Linked DNA regions of Homo sapiens. The protein of the gene in region 3 purifies or fractionates together with the protein of the main gene of each other region. This does not show direct contact. Each region holds a gene or a part of one and is shown on either strand. Other genes may lie near its edges.

Region 1 (3,559 bases), on a different chromosome or scaffold from region 3:
TATGGTGAGGGCAGCAGCGTGGGTGGCATCACCACCATCACAGTCAACCAGAGCCTGCTGAGCCCCCTTAACCTGGAGGTGGACCCCAACATCCAGGCTGTGCGCACCCAGGAGAAGCAGCAGATCAAGACCCTCAACAACAAGTTTGCCTCCTTCATAGACAAGGTATGGTTCCTGGAGCAGTAGAACAAGATGCTGGAGACTAAGTGGAGCCTCCTGCAGCAGCAGAAGATGGCTCAGAGCAACATGGACAACATGTTCCAGAGCTACATCAACAACCTTAGGCAGCAGCTGAAGACTCTGGGCCAGGAGAAGCTGAAGCTGGAGGCGGAGCTTGGCAACATGCCCGGGCTGGTGGAGGACTTCAAGAACAAGTATGAGGATGAGATCAATAAGTGTACAGAGGTGGAGAATGAATTTGTCCTCATCAAGAGGATGTGGATGAAGGTTACATGAACAAGGTAGAGCTGGAGTCTCACCTGGAAGGGCTGACTGACGAGATCAATTTCCTCAAGCAGCTGTATGAAGAGGAGATCCAGGAGCTGCAGTCCCAGATCTCGGACACATCTGTGGTGCTGCCCATGGACAACAGCCGCTCCCTGGGCATGAACAGCATCATCGCTGAGGTCAAGGCACCATACGAGGAGATCGCCAACTGCAGCCAGGCCAAGGCTGAGAGCATGTACCAGATCAAGGATGAGGAGCTGCAGATGCTGGCTGGGAAGCACGAGGATGACCTGCAGTGTACAAAGACTGAGATTTCTGAGATGAACCGGAACATCAGCCAGCTCCAGGCTGAGACTGAGGGCCTCAAAGGCCAGAGGGCTTCCCTGGAGGGCACCATCACAGATGTCTGCAGCACAGGGGGCTGGCTGTTAAGGATGCCAACGCCAAGCTGTCCAAGCTGGAGGCCGCCCTGCAGCAGGCCAAGCAGGACATGGCATGGCAACTGCTTGAGTACCAGGAACTGATGAACATCAAGCTGGCCCTGGACATCGAGATAGCCACCTACAGGAAGCTGCTGGAGGGCGAGGAGAGCCAGCTGGACTCTGGGATGCAGAACATGAGTATCCATACAAAGACCACCAGTGGTTATGCAGGTGATCTGAGCTCGGCCTGTGGGGGCCTCCCAAGCCCCAGCTTTGGCTCTGGTGTGGGCTCCAGCTCCTTCAGCCGCACCAGCACCACCAGGGCAGTGGTTGTGAAGAAGATCGAGACCCATGATGGGAGGCTGGTGTCCTAGTCCTCTGACGTCCTGCCCAAGTGAACAGCTGCGGCAGCCCCTCCCAGCCTGCCCCTCCTGCGACTCTCCCAGAGAGCAGAAGGGAGCACAGGGAACGTGAGACCCACCTGAGGCCCAGCCCTAGCCCTCAACCCACCCACAGGGTAGTTTACTACCTGGGGACCCCCCATGCCTATGCCTTCAGCTACAAAACAATTCAATTGCTTTTTTTTTTTGGTCCAAAATAAAACCTCTGCTAGCTCTGCCAACAGCTAACCTTATAGTTACCTGTTTTTTTCAAATGTGAAAGATGGGTATTCCGAAAAACCATACAAAGAGTCCCTCTCTTCAATCTGCATCCAAAAACTCATGAAATTAGAAACTGTCCAACCACAGGAAAACAGCCTGGCTAAGATTCAAAGTGTAGGCAAAAGCCTGCAGAGAGTGAACAGAATCCTCATGGGCCCAAGGAGCATCCAGAAAAGTCACTTCAAAGAGGTGGGAAAGCAGAGCAACAGGAAGGAACAGGGTGCCTGGGCATTTGTGGAGAATGCTGCCAAAGAAAAAAGGCTCAGGAGTCCAGCCCCAAGGGAGCTGGAACAGCCTCACATAGAGCAGGGGCATGAGAAGTTAGCAGGAAACGCCATCTATACCAAGCCTTCGTTCAACCAAGAGCATAAGGCAGCAGTCTTCTCTTTGCTGAAACCCTTCTCCATGGGCGTGCCTTCTATCTCCACCCCTGCAAAAGCCCTACCTGTGGTCAGAAACAGATTGAAAGACTTACCCATTTTGGTTTTAGAAAATGCAAAGTTGAGTTAAAACCAATCGTACATTCCAGAAAAGTTCTCTCAGTAGACTTTGCTTGCAAAGAGGCCTCCATTCTCTGCAGTGAAAAGCCTCATAAATGCCCCTTCACAAGGGGCTTTTTCATCTTTAGGAGACCTGAGTCTTCAGGAAAATCCTTTTCCGGAAGTATTTCTCCATCAGAATGTTTTAAAAGCACCACTGCAAGAAATGCCTTTGAACAAAACATTTTTATGGAAAACACTACTATGCCAGAAGGCACCATCTCTGAAAACACAACCTACAACCATCCTCCTGAGGGAGATTCTGCTGAGACTGCGTTCAACTTAGAGAAGACTGTGAAACACAATGGGAATACAACAACATGGGCACTGGCCTGTCTCCCGAGCCCAAAAGCTTCAATTACCCATTGCTCTCGTCCCCAGGTGATCAGTTTGAAATTCAGCTAAACCAGCAGCTACGGCCCCTCATCCCCAATAATGATGTGAGAAGACTCATTTCTCATGTTATCTGGACCTTGAAGATGGAGTGCTCTGAGACCCATGTGCAATTGGCCTATACCAAGCTCATCTCCAGGACAGGCCTCCTGATTCATCAGTGAGCAGCAAGAAGTAAAGATGTCCAAGGCAGAATGGGATACAGACCAATGGAAAACTGAGAACTATATCAATGAGAGCACGGAAGCCCAGAGCAAACAGAAAGAGCAGAAGTCAAGTGAGGTGAGGACCACACAGAAACATGAAACCCAGATTTTCCTATCATTTAGCATCTTCCAGGAAAGTGCCCACACAGGAGAACCTGGGACTCCCAGACCATAGTTTGTCTTGGCCATGTAACTTCAGCCGTGACAGTGATCTCCCACTTTGCTCATTTAGAGAGTGAAACAGGTTAGTACACAAGATAAACTGTAGGCCGGACATGATGGCTCATGCCTGTAATCCTAGCACTTTGGGAGGCTGAGGTAGGTGGATCACTTGAGGTCAGGAGTTTGAGACCAGCTTGGCCAACATGGTGAAACCCTGTCTCCAAGGGGAAGCCAATCTTAATGCCCACCAATTTTCTTTGATAATGAAGCTGTATTATTTATATCTCAGAGGATTATTTCATTTCAGGTAATTTGTTGGAATTTTCCCTTCACATTTTTCAGTATTAACGATCTGTCCCCTCTTTGTACTACTAGGCTAAAAGTTCGTTAATTTTTAGGTGATAAATAGCTGTTGTTAATAATTTATTTTATGTTTGTTTTATTAATTTATTTGTGCATATTTAACCATCTACCATAATTTTTACCTTGTATCAACAGGATTCTTACTACAGATTTAATGACCTTAACTACAGATGGGTCTCTTTGGATAACTGGACCTATAGCAAAGAATTTAAAATCCCCTTTGAAATTAGGTATGTATGTTTGTGGGTGTATTTTTATTATTATTTGAACTTTTCTTCTTTTTCTATCTGGGCAAAAATGTTGTGTTTTGTTTGTTTTTTTTTTGTTTTGTATGTTTTGTTTTGTTTTGTTTGTTTAGGTTACAT
Region 2 (3,559 bases), on a different chromosome or scaffold from region 3:
GCACTTGAACTCGTAGTCCTCCCACATGGCATCGGGGGCGCTGGCGTTGGAGCTGGCTGTGCCCTGCAGGATCACCTCCGCCCGCTCCTTGGTGATGCTGCCGGGAGACCGAGGCAGGCCAGGCCCACGTCACACACCGGCTGGGCCGAGTGGGGTGCATGGGTGGGGGGGGTTCCCCGACTGTCCATCCTGGCCCAGGGGGAGGGCTACAGCCTCCACCTGCCTCCTGGTCAGGGGCTACTGAGAGGCTGGGTGGGGCTGAGGAGAACTTTTGGGAACTGTGGCCCCAGGGTCTCATTCGAGAACACCTTCTCTGCCCGTGAAGACCCAGCTGCAGCCGCCATGTGCCCCATGCCCCTCGGCAGCTCAGGGTGGACATGAGGGGGACAGAGGCCAAGGGGCTGGCCCCAGGACAGGGAGGGTGCCTGTGTTCAGGTGGCACTACCTGGCATTCCCACGCAGGGGGTTGGGGCCTGGTGGCCTCTCCCTTACGCCCCCAGTAGGCATTCCAGGGCCGCAGCCCACCTGCCTGGTGACCTCGGGCCCTGCCCCTTTGCCTCATGGGACCAGGACGAGGAGGCCTGCGTGTCCAGGCCCGGTAGTGGGGACAGCACGGCCTGTGCCTGGGTCAGGCTGGGGTGGGGCAGGGGACACTTGGGGTCATGGGGGCCTGCACTGTAACCCCACCTGAATGTGGCTGGTCAGGGCTGAGTCTCCCCATATACCCAGCTCCGGGGGACGGGGACCCCAGGCTCATACCTTCCGAAGGCCCCGTAAGTGTTGACGATGTGAAGAGAGTTGAAGTGGGTGTTCATGACCTGCCTGGAGCTCAGCAAGTTGAGGACCACGGGCACGCTGAGCCAGGCCAGCAGGACGCCCAGCGAGACGTTGGCTGCACGCCGCACCACGGAGCCTGGCAGGGGAGTGACATCTTCCAGGTGGGGCTCCCAGCTGCCCCGTGGCCTGTCCCTGGGGAGACCCCAGCTGCTGCTCCCTAAGGGTCAGCTGTCCTGGGTCCCGGGGACGGAGCAGCACCCGAACTCACACACCTTGTTCCTGGCACGCTACACTGCGGACGGCGCTGACTCTCCTCCTACCCTGGCGTCCCCAACCCACACGGGCAGGCTGTGGGGCTGGCACCACCCGACTTTCTCCTGCCCTTGGGCAGGGGCCCCCAGCTGAGCCACCTACCGAATCTGGGCTCGGGCCGGGCCCCTCGGATGTCCCTCTGCATCTGCAGAACTCGGTCCTTCAGGCTGCCTGGCCCAGAGGGGAACAAGAATCCCAGGGTGGCGTCATCAAAGCAGGCCAGGCTGGGCACCATAGTCAGCCAGTTCAGGAAGCTGAGGTTCCCGCTGACGATGAGGACGGCCTGTGGAGACGCCGCAGCTGAGTCTCGTGCAGGGGCTCGTGTGGGGCCCCTGGGCAGCTGGCGCCTCTCTTCCTGGAGCAGGGAGGGGGGAGGGAACCTGCACCCAGCTCTGCCCTTGCTGTCCCTCGGGCCCAGCATCACAACTGAAACCCAGCTGTGCCTTCATGGAGGGGACAGCAGATGCCTCAGAGGTGCCTTCCGGCAGGTGCTTCCAGAACATTCCTCCCATGACTGCACATTTCTGTGCAGGTTCTGTCCCTTGCTTTAGTGATCCGCAAGGCGGGGGCTGGACCAGACCACCAGACCCTGTGCCCTCCTGGAACTCCTCACTTTCAGAGGGCACCTGCCGGGGTCATGCCCGGGGAAGGCTGGTGAGTCCAAACAGAGGAGGCTGTGCTTGGAGAGTGGGTACTGGGGACGCCCCTCAGCCGATGGGTGACACAGACAACAGGGGCCGTGGGGGGGCCACCAGTAACGCCCCCACTCCAAAATACGAAATGCAAGGAAGTGAGACACAGGCACAGGACCCTGTGCCACAGAGATGAACAGCAGGAGAGGGGAGGGGCTGCATGCAGGGCTGGCTGAGCAGCACGGCTGGGAGAGCTCCAAGGAAAGACTCAGCAGCAGCAGTGAGTAAACCTGCGGCAGGAGGGACTCAGAGGGACCCGCTTCTGGACATCCCCGCAGGCCAGCGATCGTTAGGTGACGAAACTGGAGATGGAGCCGCTGTCCCTGCAGCTCCGTCGGGTGATATCACAGGTGTGCTGCCAGACCTCACCCCTGCCGTTGCCGTGGAGGCATCAGGGAGACAGGGGCAGCTTGCGTGGCCGGTCGCCCTGCATGGGTGATGGTCTGCAGCTGAGCCGGTGGACCCTGGGCCGGCAGGACCTGGGTGTGGCTTCCTCAGACAGCTCCGTCAGCCAGATTTGATGCATCAAAGCCCAGCCTTTATCCCCGTAACTCAGGAGGAAGGTTGAGGGCAGGGACATCGACGTCTAATGAAGGGACTCGTGAGGGCAGCCACATCAGTGTTATGGGCGATGATGGTGTTTTATGAACTGTGCACTCATGGCTCTCCCTGGGTGAATTGGGAAAAATAGCTTTTCTGGTTCTGAGCCCCAAAACAGTTATTTCTTATTCTCCACTGTCTACAAGGTTACTAAACCCCTGTGCCAAAAACAGCCCCGCCTCGCCCTGGCTGGGGTTAGCCACCTCTGCCACCAGCTCCCCTCCGCTGGTCCAGACCCCCATGCCCTCCGTCCTGAGTGTGACCAGGGCTGGTCTGGGGTGGGGTGGCTGGGAGCCCCTGAGCTCCCGTGACAGGGAGGGTGCAGGGCTAGGCACTGAGGTCTGACCTTTGGGCCCACTCTTGGGGATGCTCTGGAGGAGATGCCACAGGTGACACTGGAATGTCCTGGTGGGAAAAGCTCGGGTCTTTCTGGCCCTTCGCTGTGGTCAGCCTGACTGGCAGATGGGACCAAAGCGACCTGGGGCACAGCCTGAGCCAGTGCCCGTTCGGATGCTCGGCCATGCCAGAACCATCAGGAGCTTTGAGGAACACCCAGCCCTGAGCACCTGCCTGCCTGGGTCAGGGTGGGCCCTGCCTGAGTGTATTTCCAAAGCCCCCTTGGGTCATCCTGCTGTGGGCTCAGTGGGGAACTCTAGCCTCAGGGAACTAGGGCTCCAGAGAGCACAGATCTGGGCATCAGATCCTGTTTCTAAGAAAGCTTCGGGGCTCGGGGCCCTGCTCCATGCAGAGGCATCCCCAGCTGCGCCCCGTTCAGCTGCTCTGGTGCATCTCTCGCCCTCCATCTGGTCGGCTGTTTTGTTATGAAAACGCAGTTCCGCGTAGAGTGCACGGCCTGAGCGCTCCTGGGGGACCTCGCCTTCCTTGTTTTTCTTCTAGCATCACTGAGCCATCTCCTCAGAGGGAAATCAGTCTTCTCACTGCCCATCTGTGCTCGCCCCCGCCGGCGGAGTCCTCACAAGGCTGTGCGGCCCACAGATGACCCGGCCGGTGGCTGGGAGCGGAGGCGAGGCCCGAGGGGGTCCCCAAGGCCGGCACAGGAAGAGGAGCTTGAGGTGATGGAATCCTGGGCCCAAGAGACGGAGCAGCAGGTGTTCCGAGGCCAACGGCGCATGGCCCCAAGAAGGAAGAGTGGCATCTTTGGATGCAGCCTCCTGCCT
Region 3 (3,559 bases):
AAAACACATGTACCCAAGGGTCAGGATTTAATAAAAGTAATAAATGTTACTGCTTTAAGGACATTCTTAAGTGAAGATAGTGTGTGTGTGTGTGTGTGTGTGTGTGTGTGCATGTGTGCTTATGTGTTTAGGTGCAAGTGTGTAATGATGAAGAATACATGACTCTTAGTGTTATGTGGTATGACTGCTTTTATTCAAATTAAAGTACCAGCAGTTTTATTTTGTACCTTCAGTGCAAATGTCAACATGAACACTCTGAAATAGACTAAGCGGATCCATATTTTGAGAAGCCTTATTCTAGAAGATTGCAAAGTTGTTCCTTTCTAATCCTGTTGAAGATTTTAATTTTCATGCTTTGCTCCTCACTGGAATGTTTGCATTTTAAAGGGGACAGGTTTATAAATCTTTGTCTTGGGATGAAATTTAAAGAATCATATCCATTAATAAAAAATGAGTTTTCCATTGTCCCCCAAATTATACTGGTAAGAACCAGCTCCACTGCCTTAGGAAGCAACAAAATGTAAAGTGTTTACACCCTCTTCACCCATCCCAAATCTGCTCATCATAACAGTGCCAAATCTTGGTCTAACCTTCCCCAAATGTCCATGAAATGCAAATGATAGAGTTGCATAAAAATAAAATAATTAAAAATAAATAAACGGATTTTTGACAAAGGTGCCAGGAACACACATTGGGGAAAGGAGAATATCTTTAATAAATGGTGCTGAAAAAACATAATACCCACATGCAGAAGAATAAAACTATCTTTCACCATGTACAAAAATCAGCTCAAAATGAATGAAAGACTTAAACATAAGACTCAAAACTATAAAACTAATAGAATAAAGTTTAGGGGAAAAGCTTTATGACATTGATGTGGGCAAGTTTTTTTGGATAAGAACTCAAAAGCACAGGCAACAAAAGCAAAAATAAACAAATGGGATTACATCAAACTGAAAAGCTCCTGCATAGCAAAGGAAACAACAGAGCGAGGAGACAACCTACAGAACTGAAGAAAATATTTGCAAATTATGAGTCCAATAAGGGGTTAATATCCAGAATATGTAAAGAACTCAAATAACTTAATAGCAAAAGAACATTTTTTTTAATGGTCAGAAGACTTGAATAGACATTTTTCAAAAGAATACATAAAAATGGCCAGCAGGTATATGATAAAATGCTCAACATCGCTAATCATCAGGGAAATACAAATCAAATGCACAGTGAAATGTCACCTCACCCTAGTTAGAATGGCTGTTATCAAAAAGACAGAAAATAACAAATGCTGGTCAGGATGCAGAGAAAGGGGAACTCTAATACACTGTTGGTGGGAGTGTAAATTAGTGCAGTCATTATGAAAACAGCATGAAAATTCCTCAGAAAACTAAAAATAGAACTAACATATGATCTAGCAATCTCACTACTAGGTACATATTCAAAGGAACTGAAATTAGTATATCAAAGAGATATCTGCACCCTCATGTTTATTGCAGCACCATTCAAAACAACCAAAATATGGAATCCACCTAAATGTCCATAAACTGATGATATACACAATGAAATACTACTCAGCTGTGAAAAGAATGAAATCCTATCATCTGCAGCAACATGGATGAACCTGGAGGACGTAATGTTAAGTGAAATAAGCCAGGCATAGAAAGACAAATACCACATAACCTCACTCATATGTAGGTCTAAAAAAGTTGATCTCATGGAATTAGAGACTAGAACAGTGGTTACCAGAGGCTAGGAAGGGTAGTGGGAAAGGGAGATGGGGAGAGCTTGGTTGACAGATACAAAGTTATAGTTAGGAAGAATAAGTTATGTGCTCTATTACATAGTAGGGTAACTGTGGCTAATAATAATGTACTGTAGATTTTAAGTAACTAGAAAAAAGCATCTTGAAAGTTATCACCACAAAGAAATGATAGATGTTTGAGGTGATGTATATGCTAACTACCCTGATTTGATCATTATTCGGTGTATGCATGTATTGAAACATCACACCAATACACTGTTGTGCCGGATATGTCAATTATAAACAAAATTTTTAAAATTAAAATTATAAATACATGAATAAATAAAAATCCATGCCACATTTGAGGCATAAATCCCACCATCTAACTGTAGAGACTGAGAGAGGAGCATGTGTCAAATGTTACTAGGGAAACAAAGAAAAGCGGGTGACTAATAATTCATGGTTCCAACAAAGTCTTCAAAATTCCCGCTGTGTAGCTTTATTTATCTAAGCAGGTAAGTTCATAATAATATATTGTCAGTTATTTCCTTTGTGCAGCAAATGCTAAGCTTTAATTAAAGTACAGAGTATTTGTCAAAAGTATTTTCTATCCCAAACCCCACTGCAGGGTAAAGAACAGTTGCCTAATCTCATCTCTAATTGGCTGGATGGAAACTAGAATCCTCTCACTGGTTAGTTGATAATTACATTGATGAATCATAAAATCAGATTACTAAAAGCAAATAAACAAACAAAAAACCTTAGGGTCATCAAACCCAGCCCCCTTGCTTTGGGATAGGGCATGTCTAGACTTCATTAACTAATAATTTCTAATCTATTATTTTTCTACATTGCTAGGGGAAAAAGACATTATTACAATTTCCATAGTTTCTTATAATGGTCGAAGCCCCTCACGGAAAGGAAAGGCCAACTTAGCATAGAGGTGGGCCCCACTTTAATTAAATATAATAAATAAAAATTGGTAGTCTGTTGTCTGGCCCAGTCAGACACTGGGTCTGGATGGGAACTAGTATCCTCTAGTTTCCTTATGTTTCTCATAAAACAGAAAGGGTAAGTGGTTTACCTAAAGCAATAAAGCCAGTTGATAATAGAACCAGAACAAAAAGCTAGTGTCCTGGCCCTCCTTCTATGCTATTAACAGCAACTATGATGGTGGTGACAATAGTCACAACTTGGACCCAGAGAGATTAAGAAAGTAGTGTGGATGAAGTCACACAGTTAGTAAATGACAGAGTTGTGCTTAAAACCCAGGCCAATATCATACTGCTGTTTCTATAGCACTGTTTTCCTTCGAGTAGATAAGGTTAAATGTTAAGTGTATTTCATTGCATTCTAATTTTTTTGTGGTGTTTAGTATCCTTTAACACAAATATTTTTATTACCCAGAACATTCCACTTTTTACATTTTCTACACAAAACATGGATTAATTGTATATTCAAAACATAGCATAACATTTACACCGCAGCAAAATGTTCCTGGATTAAGCCAGTTTTAACCTGCCCATTTGCAGGAGAAGAAATTGAGATGCCTCAAAAAGCCAAGTCCATACAGAGAGTACATGGGAGGAATCACAGATAAAGGCCTAAGTCCAGCTCCTGTGGCTGCTAAATAAATCATAATACAGAATAGTGAATGACCTAGAAAAAGGAATGATACTGTCTAAGGAAGCTTTTTATGAGCAAATAATAAAAAATAATGGCTAACATTTAATGAATTTTTAGTATGTGATAGGCATTCCAAGCATCTTACAAGGATTAGTTAATATTATATTCAAAACACCATATAAGGGGGAAAATATA
Region 4 (3,559 bases), on a different chromosome or scaffold from region 3:
ATTTGCCAAGCTCCTACTCCTAATTTCTAGATGTAACTAGGTCTAAAATCTGCATTTTATTCCAGAAAGGACAGATACAAGTAGTCAAAGCAAAAGAGCCCAGTGCCTTATTGTAAATTTTATGTAATATGTAATACAAGCAAGACTCAAAACTATTAATCAAAAATAGCGTGGTACTGTGCAAAGAAACCTGGATCGAGAATCTAGAATTCCAGATTTGAGATCTAGTCATACTATCTGGCTGCTCAGAGACCTTGGGCAATTAATTTCCTTGGGAAATTAATTCTGAGTTTCAATTTCTACTTGTATAAAAAGTATCCTGGGTTTAATTTCTAGGGTTGCTTTGAAATCTAAGAATTCATGATTTTAGATTACAGATAATGGACATAAGTATTCTGTTATTTTTCTAGACTGTTAAGTTTTCAATGGATGGAGGCAGGACGATTCTGATGGGCTGTTCCCCTCCAGTGCTTTCCCTGTAGTCTGCTCAGGCTGTTGGACCTGCATTGCAACTCAACTTCTCCCTCTGCCCAGGGAGAGGGAGGTATTCCTTTTACAGATATTGGCCCAGAAAGTGCTCCCTAACAAACATCCTGAATGCTCAACTTTATCTTCGAGTCTGCTTCTGGGAGAAATCAATCCCCAGCATTAATGTTTTATCTCAGCAGGAAAAAACCTTGCAAAGCGATCTAGAAGTTTTAAAACTTCACACTCATAACTGGCTCTTTTTTTTAAAATTTAATTTTATTTTTTGAGATGGAGTCTCACTCTGTCGCCCAGGCTGGAGTGCAGTGGCGCGGTATCGGCTCACTGCAAACTCCGCCTCCTGGGTTCACGCCATTCTCCTGCCTCAGCCTCCTGAGTATCTGGGACTACAGGTGCCTGCCACCATGCCTGTATGGTGTATTTTTTGTATTTTTAGTAGAGACGAGGTTTCACTGTGGTCTCGATCTCCTGACCTCGTCATCCGCCCACCTCGGCCTCCCAAAGTGCTGGGATTACAGGCTTGAGCCACCGCGCCCGGCCGGCTCTTTCTAAATACTCTTATCTCCAGCTTCTTACCTGTTTCATCAAACATTTACTTTTGGAATACTGTTGTGGTAGACTGTGTAGGTTGGCTAGCCAACAGTCTTTCCCAATCCCTCTATCTCTTGGCCATCTCACACTCTAACGACTAGAAAACCAAAGACTTGCTTTCCCAGCTTCCTTTGCAGCTGGGGGTCACCATGGGATGTTCTGGTCCATAAGACATAAGCAGAGCCTGCTAAGGGGGTTCCAGAAAAACCTTTTACTTTGCTAATAAAGAGCAACACATGTGGTAGTGTACCATTCCTCTTTCCCTTTTCTTTCTGCCTGGAGTTGGGATGCGATAAAGCTGCAGCAACCACCTTGTGGCCACAAGGAAAAGCTAAGAATATTACAACAACGTTATCCCTGACATCACTATGCCACTGAATTTACTTACCTCTAGACTTATGTAAGAAAAATAAATCCCTATTTGTTTTAGCTATAATAAATAGGTTTCTAAAAATACTGCCTAATTAATATACTGTCATTTTCCAATAAACTTAAGAGGTTTTTCATTTTTAAAATTTTGTGGTTGTCACAATGGCTATGGGGTGCCACTAGCACTTACTATCTGGAGCCAGAGATGCTACATACCCTGCAATGCATGGGGCAGTCACACCCAAAATGGCAGTGGCACATACCATGGGAAACCCTAGAACAGAGCATTCAGGCCATTTCCAATGGCCATATTAACTGAGCTATTATTATAGGTAATATCATTTTTTCTATAGCCTGACATTGTGAAAGGAGACCCAGGATTTATAAAAGATGATCTCTGTCCTCTAGGATCTAACAATCTAATAGTGGAGAAAAGATTGCTAGATAAATAACTACAAACAAGTACAGCTTTATAGAGGTCAGAGATGACTGTAATTAAGATTGACAGAGTTAATTTCAGGTTAGGATTCATGGAAGTGATGTCAAAGCTGGGTTCTTAAGAATGGGTAAGGTGTGTCAGGCAGAGGGAAGCATATTATCTTAGATGTGAACTAGGAAAGTATAAGGTATGTTCAGAGAACAGCATATTGATGATTAAAGTAGACCATGGTTGGTGTATGACACAGTAAAGGGAGGAAAGATGGCCAAAGTCAGTAACTTGGGACAACATTTCCATTTAAGGAGTAGGACGAAGAAGGAGAGAGAGCCAGGCCAACAAAAGGAACAGAGAGCAAACTAAGAGAAGAACCTAAACAGTAGTGCATCTTATGGCCAAGGCATAAGAGGATATGAAAATATCAGGCCAGGCTGGGTGCAGTGGCTCATGCCTGTAATCCCAGCACTTTGGGAGGCCGAGGTGGGCAGATCACCTGAGGTCAGGAGTTCAAGACCAGCCTGGCCAACATGGAGAAACCCTGTCTCTACTAAAAGTACAAAAATTAGCCGGGCATGGTGGCGGGCACCTGTAATCCCAGCTACTCAGGAGGCTGAGGCAGGAGAATAGCTTGAACCAGGGAGGTGGAGGTTGCATGAGCCGAGATTGCACCACTGCACTCCAGCCTGGGCGATAAGAGCGAGACTCCATCTCAAAAAAATAAATAAATAAAATAAAAAATAAAAAAAAATAAATTAGAAAATATCAGGCCAGATATGATGGCTCATGCCTGTAATCCCAGCACTTTGAGAGACTGAGGCGGGTGGATCGCTTGAGCCTAAGTGCTCAAGACCAGCCTGGACAACATGGTGAAACTCTGTCTCCACAAAATTACAAAAATTAGCCAGGCATGATGGCGTGTGCCTGTGGTCCCAGCTCCTCTAGAGGCTGAGGTGGGAGGATAGCTTGAGCCTGGGAGGTGGAGGTTGTGTGAGCTGTGACTGTACCACTGCACTCTAGCCTGGGTGACAGAGCAAGACCCTGCCTCAAAAAAAAAAAAAAAAGTCATCTGTTTAGTGGCACTAAATGCCTTACAGAAGTTAAGCCAAATTAAAAAGAACCAGAGAAAGAAATATTGAAGATGTTGGTGCTGGTTCCAGAACCTGGCAAAAGCACAAGTTGAAAAATTAGGCAAATAGGTGGAAAGAGGTTTACCACGGATGCTTTAATTGAACTAATACCTTTTAAGTACTTCCATGTGAGCCCATTTGATGGTGGTGGAGAGAAAGGTTCCAGACAAAAGGAAAGATAAATAGGAAAGGTTCTGTCATATATGTCACTGGGAAATCATCACAAGCCAGAGAACTTTATTAATTAAAACTTATCTTTCACTGAAGTGTTTAATTAAGTAATTTTAAAAGCCTACTTTCTGCCTCATTTCTCCCAAACTAGACTATAGAACTTGAAGACATACAGAAGGAACAGTGGCTACTCAGTAAACAAGGACCCAGGGATTGGAGGCAACTGTGATTTTATAAGACTAAAATTTAATTATTAGGGAGATTAAAACACATTTATTTTACTTATTTTTCCCGCCTGTCAATATTTAGTGTATAAGACAAGTTTGATCCATATTCAAGGTCCACAAGAACTCATTCCTTTAGATATAAAGTATATAAA

What was found. Proteins that work in one complex are often made in the same cells at the same time.
Region 1: the proteins of BRINP2 (region 3) and MANBA purify together in Homo sapiens (affinity purification with mass spectrometry; one large-scale study listed by BioGRID and IntAct). This does not show direct contact.
Region 2: the proteins of BRINP2 (region 3) and LMF1 purify together in Homo sapiens (affinity purification with mass spectrometry; one large-scale study listed by BioGRID and IntAct). This does not show direct contact.
Region 4: the proteins of BRINP2 (region 3) and GALNT1 purify together in Homo sapiens (affinity purification with mass spectrometry; one large-scale study listed by BioGRID and IntAct). This does not show direct contact.

The regions. Positions count from the first base shown.
Region 1 is NC_000004.12:102,726,454-102,730,012, reverse strand, and holds part of MANBA (beta-mannosidase precursor), read left to right. Parts: exon of another isoform or gene 1-2,643; coding exon of another isoform or gene 2,644-2,745; intron 2,746-3,329; coding exon 3,330-3,424; intron 3,425-3,559.
Region 2 is NC_000016.10:869,970-873,528, forward strand, and holds part of LMF1 (lipase maturation factor 1), read right to left. Parts: intron 1,373-3,559; coding exon 1,192-1,372; intron 914-1,191; coding exon 760-913; intron 98-759; coding exon 1-97. UniProt on the Homo sapiens protein: Involved in the maturation of specific proteins in the endoplasmic reticulum. Required for maturation and transport of active lipoprotein lipase (LPL) through the secretory pathway. Each LMF1 molecule chaperones 50 or more molecules of LPL.
Region 3 is NC_000001.11:177,250,930-177,254,488, reverse strand, and holds part of BRINP2 (BMP/retinoic acid-inducible neural-specific protein 2 precursor), read right to left. Parts: intron 1-3,559. UniProt on the Homo sapiens protein: Inhibits neuronal cell proliferation by negative regulation of the cell cycle transition.
Region 4 is NC_000018.10:35,703,696-35,707,254, reverse strand, and holds part of GALNT1 (polypeptide N-acetylgalactosaminyltransferase 1), read right to left. Parts: intron 1-3,559. UniProt on the Homo sapiens protein: Catalyzes the initial reaction in O-linked oligosaccharide biosynthesis, the transfer of an N-acetyl-D-galactosamine residue to a serine or threonine residue on the protein receptor.